Homo sapiens: one gene and its partner. The protein of the gene in region 1 purifies or fractionates together with the protein of each later gene. This does not show direct contact. Each region holds a gene or a part of one and is shown in the gene's direction. Other genes may lie near its edges.

The links. Proteins that work in one complex are often made in the same cells at the same time.
Region 2: the proteins of CCNT2 (region 1) and CDK11B purify together in Homo sapiens (affinity purification with mass spectrometry, with the first as the bait; one large-scale study listed by BioGRID). This does not show direct contact.

What each region holds. Positions count from the first base shown.
Region 1 is NC_000002.12:134,949,822-134,953,321, forward strand, and holds part of CCNT2 (cyclin-T2), read left to right. Parts: intron 1-2,819; coding exon 2,820-2,890; intron 2,891-3,408; coding exon 3,409-3,500. UniProt on the Homo sapiens protein: Regulatory subunit of the cyclin-dependent kinase pair (CDK9/cyclin T) complex, also called positive transcription elongation factor B (P-TEFB), which is proposed to facilitate the transition from abortive to production elongation by phosphorylating the CTD (carboxy-terminal domain) of the large subunit of RNA polymerase II (RNAP II).
Region 2 is NC_000001.11:1,645,505-1,649,004, reverse strand, and holds part of CDK11B (cyclin-dependent kinase 11B), read left to right. Parts: intron 1-3,500. UniProt on the Homo sapiens protein: Plays multiple roles in cell cycle progression, cytokinesis and apoptosis. Involved in pre-mRNA splicing in a kinase activity-dependent manner. Isoform 7 may act as a negative regulator of normal cell cycle progression.

The sequences.
Region 1 (3,500 bases):
GAGTCTCAGTCGCCCAGGCTATAGAGTGCGGTGGCGCAATCTCGGCTCGCTGCACCCTCCGCCTCCCGGGTTCAAGCAGTTCTCTGCCTCAGCCTCCTGAGTAGCTGGGATTACAGGTGCCTGCCACCACGCCTGGCTAATTTTTGTATTTTTAGTAGAGATAGGGTTTTCACCATGTTGGCCAGGCTGGTCTTGAACTCCTGACCTCATGATCCACCCACCTTGGCCTCAAAGTGTTAGGATTACAGGCGTGAACCACCACACCCAGCCAGTAGGCATAATCGTAATAAAAATAGTTTATATACCTGGTGCTGAAGTAAAAAGATCACAGAAAAGTAATCTGCCTTTTATCCTGTCTTTAGGTCAGAGGTTAGGTTGTGGTTTATGTGGGGTTTTTTGACACAGGAGGAGCTACCTCATTTCCATTCTGAAAAGTAAAGTTTGTTAATTTGGAGAGCAATTGAATAGGAATCTTGGAGAACTGATATGTTAAGACTTTCACCATGTTTTGCAGCAGCTTTTTTTTCTGTGTCAGTCACAAAAAGGCAATTCAAAATTAAAGACATGAAGGTGTGGCCGGGTGCAGTCACTCACATATCTTGAGCACAGGAGTTTGAGCCCAGCCTGAGCAACATGGCAAAACCACGTTTCTACTAAAAATACACACAAACCGGGCATGGTGGCGCACTCCTATAGACCCAACTACTGTGGAGGCTAAGGTGGGAGGATCACCTGAGCCTGAGACGTCAAGGTTGTAGTGAGCTGTGATAATGCTACTGCTCTCCAGCCTGGGCAACAGAGGAAACCCTGTCTGGGGGGAAAAAAAAAGACATGAAGATTTATCTGAATTGTAGAGTGAAGTGATACTACTATTCTTATTACTTACTGAAATAATTCACTTAATGATTGTGTTCCAGAAAAGAACATTGGCTTAGACAGTAGCTTTGAGAGAGAAGGGCCTCTATTTTAGGCACATACTGTGATTTTTGTGCATATAGCTAATTAATTATGTTAATGGATTATTTAACAGATTCTTTTGTTGTTCTGCTATAAAATTTAATACAGTAGGATACTTAAGAAAAACAAAGCTTACATTTTGTGTACGAGATTTTGGACCAGAACTTGAAGTGTATTTAATGTTTTACAACCAAGTTGTTAACAGAAATTGAGTCAAAACAGTTTTGTTAATGTTGGACCCAAAAGTAGAAAAATAGTCTTTTTTTTTTTCTTTTTTTTTCAAATGAGGAAGTAAAGGTCTGGGCATTAGGGTTTTTTTCATCCAAACTGGATGAAAAAGCTCATGAGACTTTAGCAGGGACTAGTCATGACATTGTCAAGGAAATTACATCTTGAAAGATTAATGGTTAAATTATAGCTTGTCTGAAGTGTCGATCTTAACATTGGCTTAGAATAGTTTACAAAAAAGCTTGCTATTACAAAATGAACCTGTAGTCTCTATTAATAGAGGTTCCCCCAGTATTGAGGTGGAATTGGCATTATTAATATTATATAATATTCTGATGTATTTGACTGATGAATATTTGAGAGTGGCTAGTAACTATTAATGACATTATTAGTTCATCAAAACCACACTACTTTGGAAAAGTGGGTCATTTGATTGTAATCAGAATTTTAAGAAAGTTGGTAGAAATTTACAATGAAGATAGTTTGCTAATATATTAATAGTGTTGATAGCTAGGAAGTATATTTGGAGGAATTTTCCCCTTTAAAAAAAAAGTCTGGGTGTGGTGGCTCACACCTGTAATTCCAGCACTTTGGGAGGCCAAGATAGGAGGATCACTTGAGGCCAGGAGTTTGAGACCAGCCTGGTCAACATAGCGAGACCCTGTCTCTGTTATTTAACAAAAAAAAGAAAGAAAGAAATGCAAAATATTGCATAGTTCCCTGTATACCCTTTAGCTTCTCCTGGTACTAACATCTTACATAACAATATATGATTATCAAAACTAGGAAGTTAACATTGGTACAATACTGTTAACTAAACCACAGATGTTATTCAGTATTCCATATTTTTCCCTATTCTAGGATCCCATGTTCCATTTAGTTGACATGTCCCTTCAAGTCTTCTCCAGTCTGTGACAGTTCTCCAATCTTTCCTTGTCTTTCATAACACTGACACTTAGGAGAATAATGGTCATTTTATACAGTGTTCCTTAGTTGGGGTTTGTCTGATGATTTCTCATTATTATGTCGAAGTTATCCATTTTGAGCAAGAATACCATAGAAGTAAATTGGGTCTTGCTTGGTGCATCATATCAAGGGGTACAGTATGTTGATACGTCTTATAACTGGTCATGACAACCGTGATCACTTGGTTACAGTGGTATCCTTAAAGTGGTTTCTGCACTTTAAAGTCACTATTTTTTTTCTCTTTGTAATTAATACATTTCATGGGGAAGATACGTTGGGATTATACAAATAACGTTTTTCCTCAAACTTTTGTCCACTAATTTTAAAGAATCTTTTGATAGATCTTGTCTGTGACAAAAATTATTGTGGTGTTTGCCTAATGAAGATTTTTTTTTTATTGGGGGGGTGATTATTTTTAATGCTACTAGATTTTCTAGAGATTCTAATTAAGCAAGTAAAATCAAGAGGGAAAGTAATCGTTACAAAAGGATTCAGCTTTGAAAATGCCGGTTGAGAGTTGTGTGTACTTCTGTGTATGCTGAGGATTTAATAGGAGGGTAAAAGTGAAGTAGATGAACTCCTAGCATTCCTTTTTAATACTGCCCACTTAAGAGAAATTTAAATCCTAAAGGCACCTTCTAAGTTTCAAATTTAAATTTTATTTTTAGAGCTAACACATGAGTTTCTACAAATATTGGAGAAAACGCCTAATAGGTTGAAGAAGATTCGAAACTGGAGGGTAAGAGAATTGACAGGGTTTAACAGAATTTCAGTCTTTTATGTAACATTTACATAGCTAACCAGTTTGAATTTTTGTGGTTAAATAATCTTTGCAGTATTCCTGAATAATTCAACGTATCTCAAGTTACATATACTCACATATTCAACTACTGAGTCCAGTGGACTTTGCTAAAGTACATTATACTTTTAAAAAATTTTTTGCAGTGATTATGACAAAAGTATCCTCTTCATTTTACAAATGGGGAAACTGAAGCCTAGACAAGTTAAATTACTTTCTGAAGTGCTGGGCTAGGATTTAACTTGTATCTGATTCTAAAATGGGTGTTTTCAATTTTTTATAGCCTTTTATGCCTCTAAGGCATTTATTTACTGACAACATAAAATCTTGAACCCCAGGTCATTTTATTTCCATATGTTTAATATATAATGTTTTTAATATATAACTTTTATAAGACAAGAAATTTGCATTAAATTATTTTGCTATATCACTGCTTCTTCTGTGTTTTATTTTAATAGGCTAATCAGGCAGCTAGGAAACCAAAAGTAGATGGACAGGTATCAGAGACACCACTTCTTGGTTCATCTTTGGTCCAGAATTCCATTTTAGT
Region 2 (3,500 bases), on another chromosome or scaffold:
GCATCTGGAAGTAAGAACGGGTGTGATTTGATTGAGGGAAGACAATGAAGGGATCAGAAATCTGCATGTCCGGCCGGGCGCGGTGGCTCATGCCTGTAATCCTAGCACTTTAGGAGGCTGAGGTGGTTGGATCCCTTGAGCCTGGAGGTCAAGGCTGCAGTAAGCTATGACCATGCTATTGCACTCCAGCCTGGTTGACAGAGTGAGACTGTCTCAAAAAAAGGAGAAGGGAGATCCTAAAAACCTTGAAACAGTCTGGAATTCGGGACCCTGGACTCCCAGGACTCCTGGCCATTAGTTTATATATTCGTTCCCCTTTATGAGCCAGATTCCCAAGAAAGAACATCGGTGTAGCCCCAGATCTGTTCCGTGAACCAGGAAAAAGGCTGTAGGCCAGGTGGGAGCAGGCCCATCTCCGCCTTCAGAGTGAGTCCACAGAAAGCTTGCAAGCTGCTCCAGGAAGAGAGGAGTCTGAAGCGGAAGGGCAGCGATGTTTGCCAGCAGCCAGGGCTGGGTACACAGCATGTAAAGATGATGAGAGGGCGCTGGTTCTTGTTGATGCCGAAGGGTGTGGGAGACACTGAGGCCCAGGGGTCAAGGTCCGAGACCGCTGCGGGGTGAGCAAGGTTTCAGTTGGCCTAGTTCCTGTTAGTGTGTGAAACATTCATGTATGCCACACCCTGTGCCAGACATTGAGTGTGTCTTGTCCCACGAGAGTACAGCTTGGGATAGAAGTGGAGGTTGGTAGATGAAATTTGGGCTGTCATATTGATTTCCCAGAAGGTAAAGACAGGAGAGTGAATGAGCAAAAATTGTTGGGGGCAGACTTCTGGGTAGGGCCGATTCAGATCAGCCAATCCAGAACTGGGTATGGTAGCATATGCTACGTGGGAGGCTAAGGCCAGAGGACCGCATGACGCCAGCCTGGGCAACGTAGGGAGACCTTGTCTCTGACAAAAAGGAAACTGATAAGGATAATCTGAGAAGCACTGATGCTTGGAAAACTGCTGAGCTGTGGGTGAAAGCAGTAAGAATCTGACCTTCTGGCCTGAGAGCTGCTCCCTTTACTGCTTCCACTCTGCACTTGGGAAGCACGGAGGTTCCACTGGGACAGGGCAGCTGCAGGACCTGCAGTTTCCTTGCTGCCTTGGAAGGGGTTACTCCGTTTAGAGCAGTGGGCAGTGGCCTTGCCCACCAGCATCCTCAGTGGAGGGAGGAAGAAAAGGCCAAGAGGTCTGCTAGAATGAAGTACAGTGTGGTTGGGAGCAGCTGTGATCTCGCCAAAGACGTGCAGCAGAGACTGGAGAGAGCTCGAGCCGCCACCCACTTGTGACCAGCCCTGAGGATGCAGCTGCGTGAAAGGACCTGGCAGAAAATAGAAGCCGCCACAGATGCGAATGACGCGTGAACGTTCAGTGTGCTCCCTGTCCACACACAGCCGTGGGCCAAGGAAGCCTTACTGTGCTCGAGGTATTTGAGCCCAGCCTTTTTCCAGTGCTGGCTAATTGCTAAGCTGTGCAGCCATGGTGGTGACCCCTAGGAAGCCAAGGTTGAAAATTAAAATAGGCATGTGGGAAGGAACGGGGTGGCCACGAGCTGTGAGGGAGATGGATTTCACGGACAACCAGACAGGCCTCGGTGGTAACAACGAAAGGGAAAACTTAGAATCCAGAATTGCTACAAATGTATTATCTAAAATACAAAGAAGTATGACAGTGTGACCCATACTGAGGAAGAACATCATCAGTAAAAACTGTCTGAGTGTCCAGATGTTGAATTTAGTAAAGGCTTGGAAACAACTTGTGGATGGAGCAGTAGAAATTATCCATTCTGAAGAACAGAGAGAAAAAAACAAGAAAAATGCACAGAGCCTCAGAAACCCGTGGTACAACATCTGCTGTACCAAAGCACGTCGAATGGGGGTTCCAGGAGAGAGGAAAGATATTTGTTACAATAATGGTTAAAAACTTTCCAAATTTTAATTAAAAAATATGCACATTCAAGAGCACAGGAAGTTTGAACTAGAATAAATGCAAAGTCACATCATAGTCAAACTGGCAAAGGCCAAAGAGAAAATGTTGAAAGGCCTCAGAGAAGAATGACCCATCCCATGAAAGGGGAGCTTCAATACCGCCAGCCACTGACTTCTTAGAAACAATGGAGGCCAGAAGGCAGTGGAGTGGCATACTCAAGCTGCTCAGAGAGAAGAACCATCAGCCAGGAATCAAAACCGTTCTACACAAGTGAAAGGGAACGAACGACATTCCCTGAGAAGCAGAGACTGGTGGGATTCATTGTTGGCGAAACCTGCCTTAAAGGAAATACTAAAGGAAGACCTTCAAGTTGAATAGAAATGACACCAGACGGTAACTTGAATCCTCAGGAAGGAAGGACAGGCACTGCAGATAGCAAGTGTAGGTTGACGTCAATATCCTGTAACTATCTCTCCTCACATCTTAGGTTTTACTGGAACTACGATTGTATAAAATAATTACACTGTTGTCATGGTATGTGGCATAAATGGACTGCACAAAGAAGACAGGGAATAAAGCTGTGTTACAACAGTTTTATATTGTACTGGACTTGAGCTAGTATCATGAGGCATACGGTGATCCCTAGAGCAACCACTAAGAAAGTTGTTTTCTTAGTGTTTTAAAAAGTACAAATAAATTAAAATGGTATGCTAAACATATGTAATTTAAAATCAAAAAGGGAAGAATAAAAAAGACACAACAAAGCAAGGAAAGTAAATCCAACTGTACGTGTAATTATATGACATGTGAAAGGTCTCTGTGCCCCAAACAGACAGGGCAGATTATCAGATAGAAAAACAAGATCTAACTGTATGCTGTCTGCTAGAGAACAGGAAAAGACGCAGCGTACAAACATCAGCTGTCATAGGAGAGCTTGAATGGCTGTACTCATACCAGACAAAACAGATGTTAAGAAATATTAGAAACCAGCCTGGCCAACATGGTGAAACCCTGTCTCTACAAAAATCACCTGGGTGTGGTGGCGCACACCTGTAATCCCAGCTACTCGGGAGGCTCAGGTATGAGAATCACTTGAACTCGTGAGATGGAGGTTGCAGTGAGCCGAGATTGCGCCACTGCACTCCAGCCTGGGTGACAAACCAAGACCCTGTCTCAAAAAAAAGCTAGAAACAAGAAGGAGCAAGGACTTCACAGCCAGAAACAGGCCAATACAGCAGGAAGATACAGCAATGATACGTGTGAATGCATCTAACCACAGAGCCCAAAATCCATGAAGCAAACACCGATCGAATGGAAAGAAATGGATCATTTATTAATTAGAATTGGAAATGGCAGCTGGGCACGGTGGCTCGGGCCTGTAAACCCAGCACTTTGAAAAGCGGAGGCAGGCGGATCACGAGGTCAGGAGATTGAGACCATCCTGGCTAACATGGTGAAACCCTCGTCTCTACTAAAAATACAAAAATTAGCTGGGAGTACAGGGCGCACGCCTGTAATCCCAGCTAC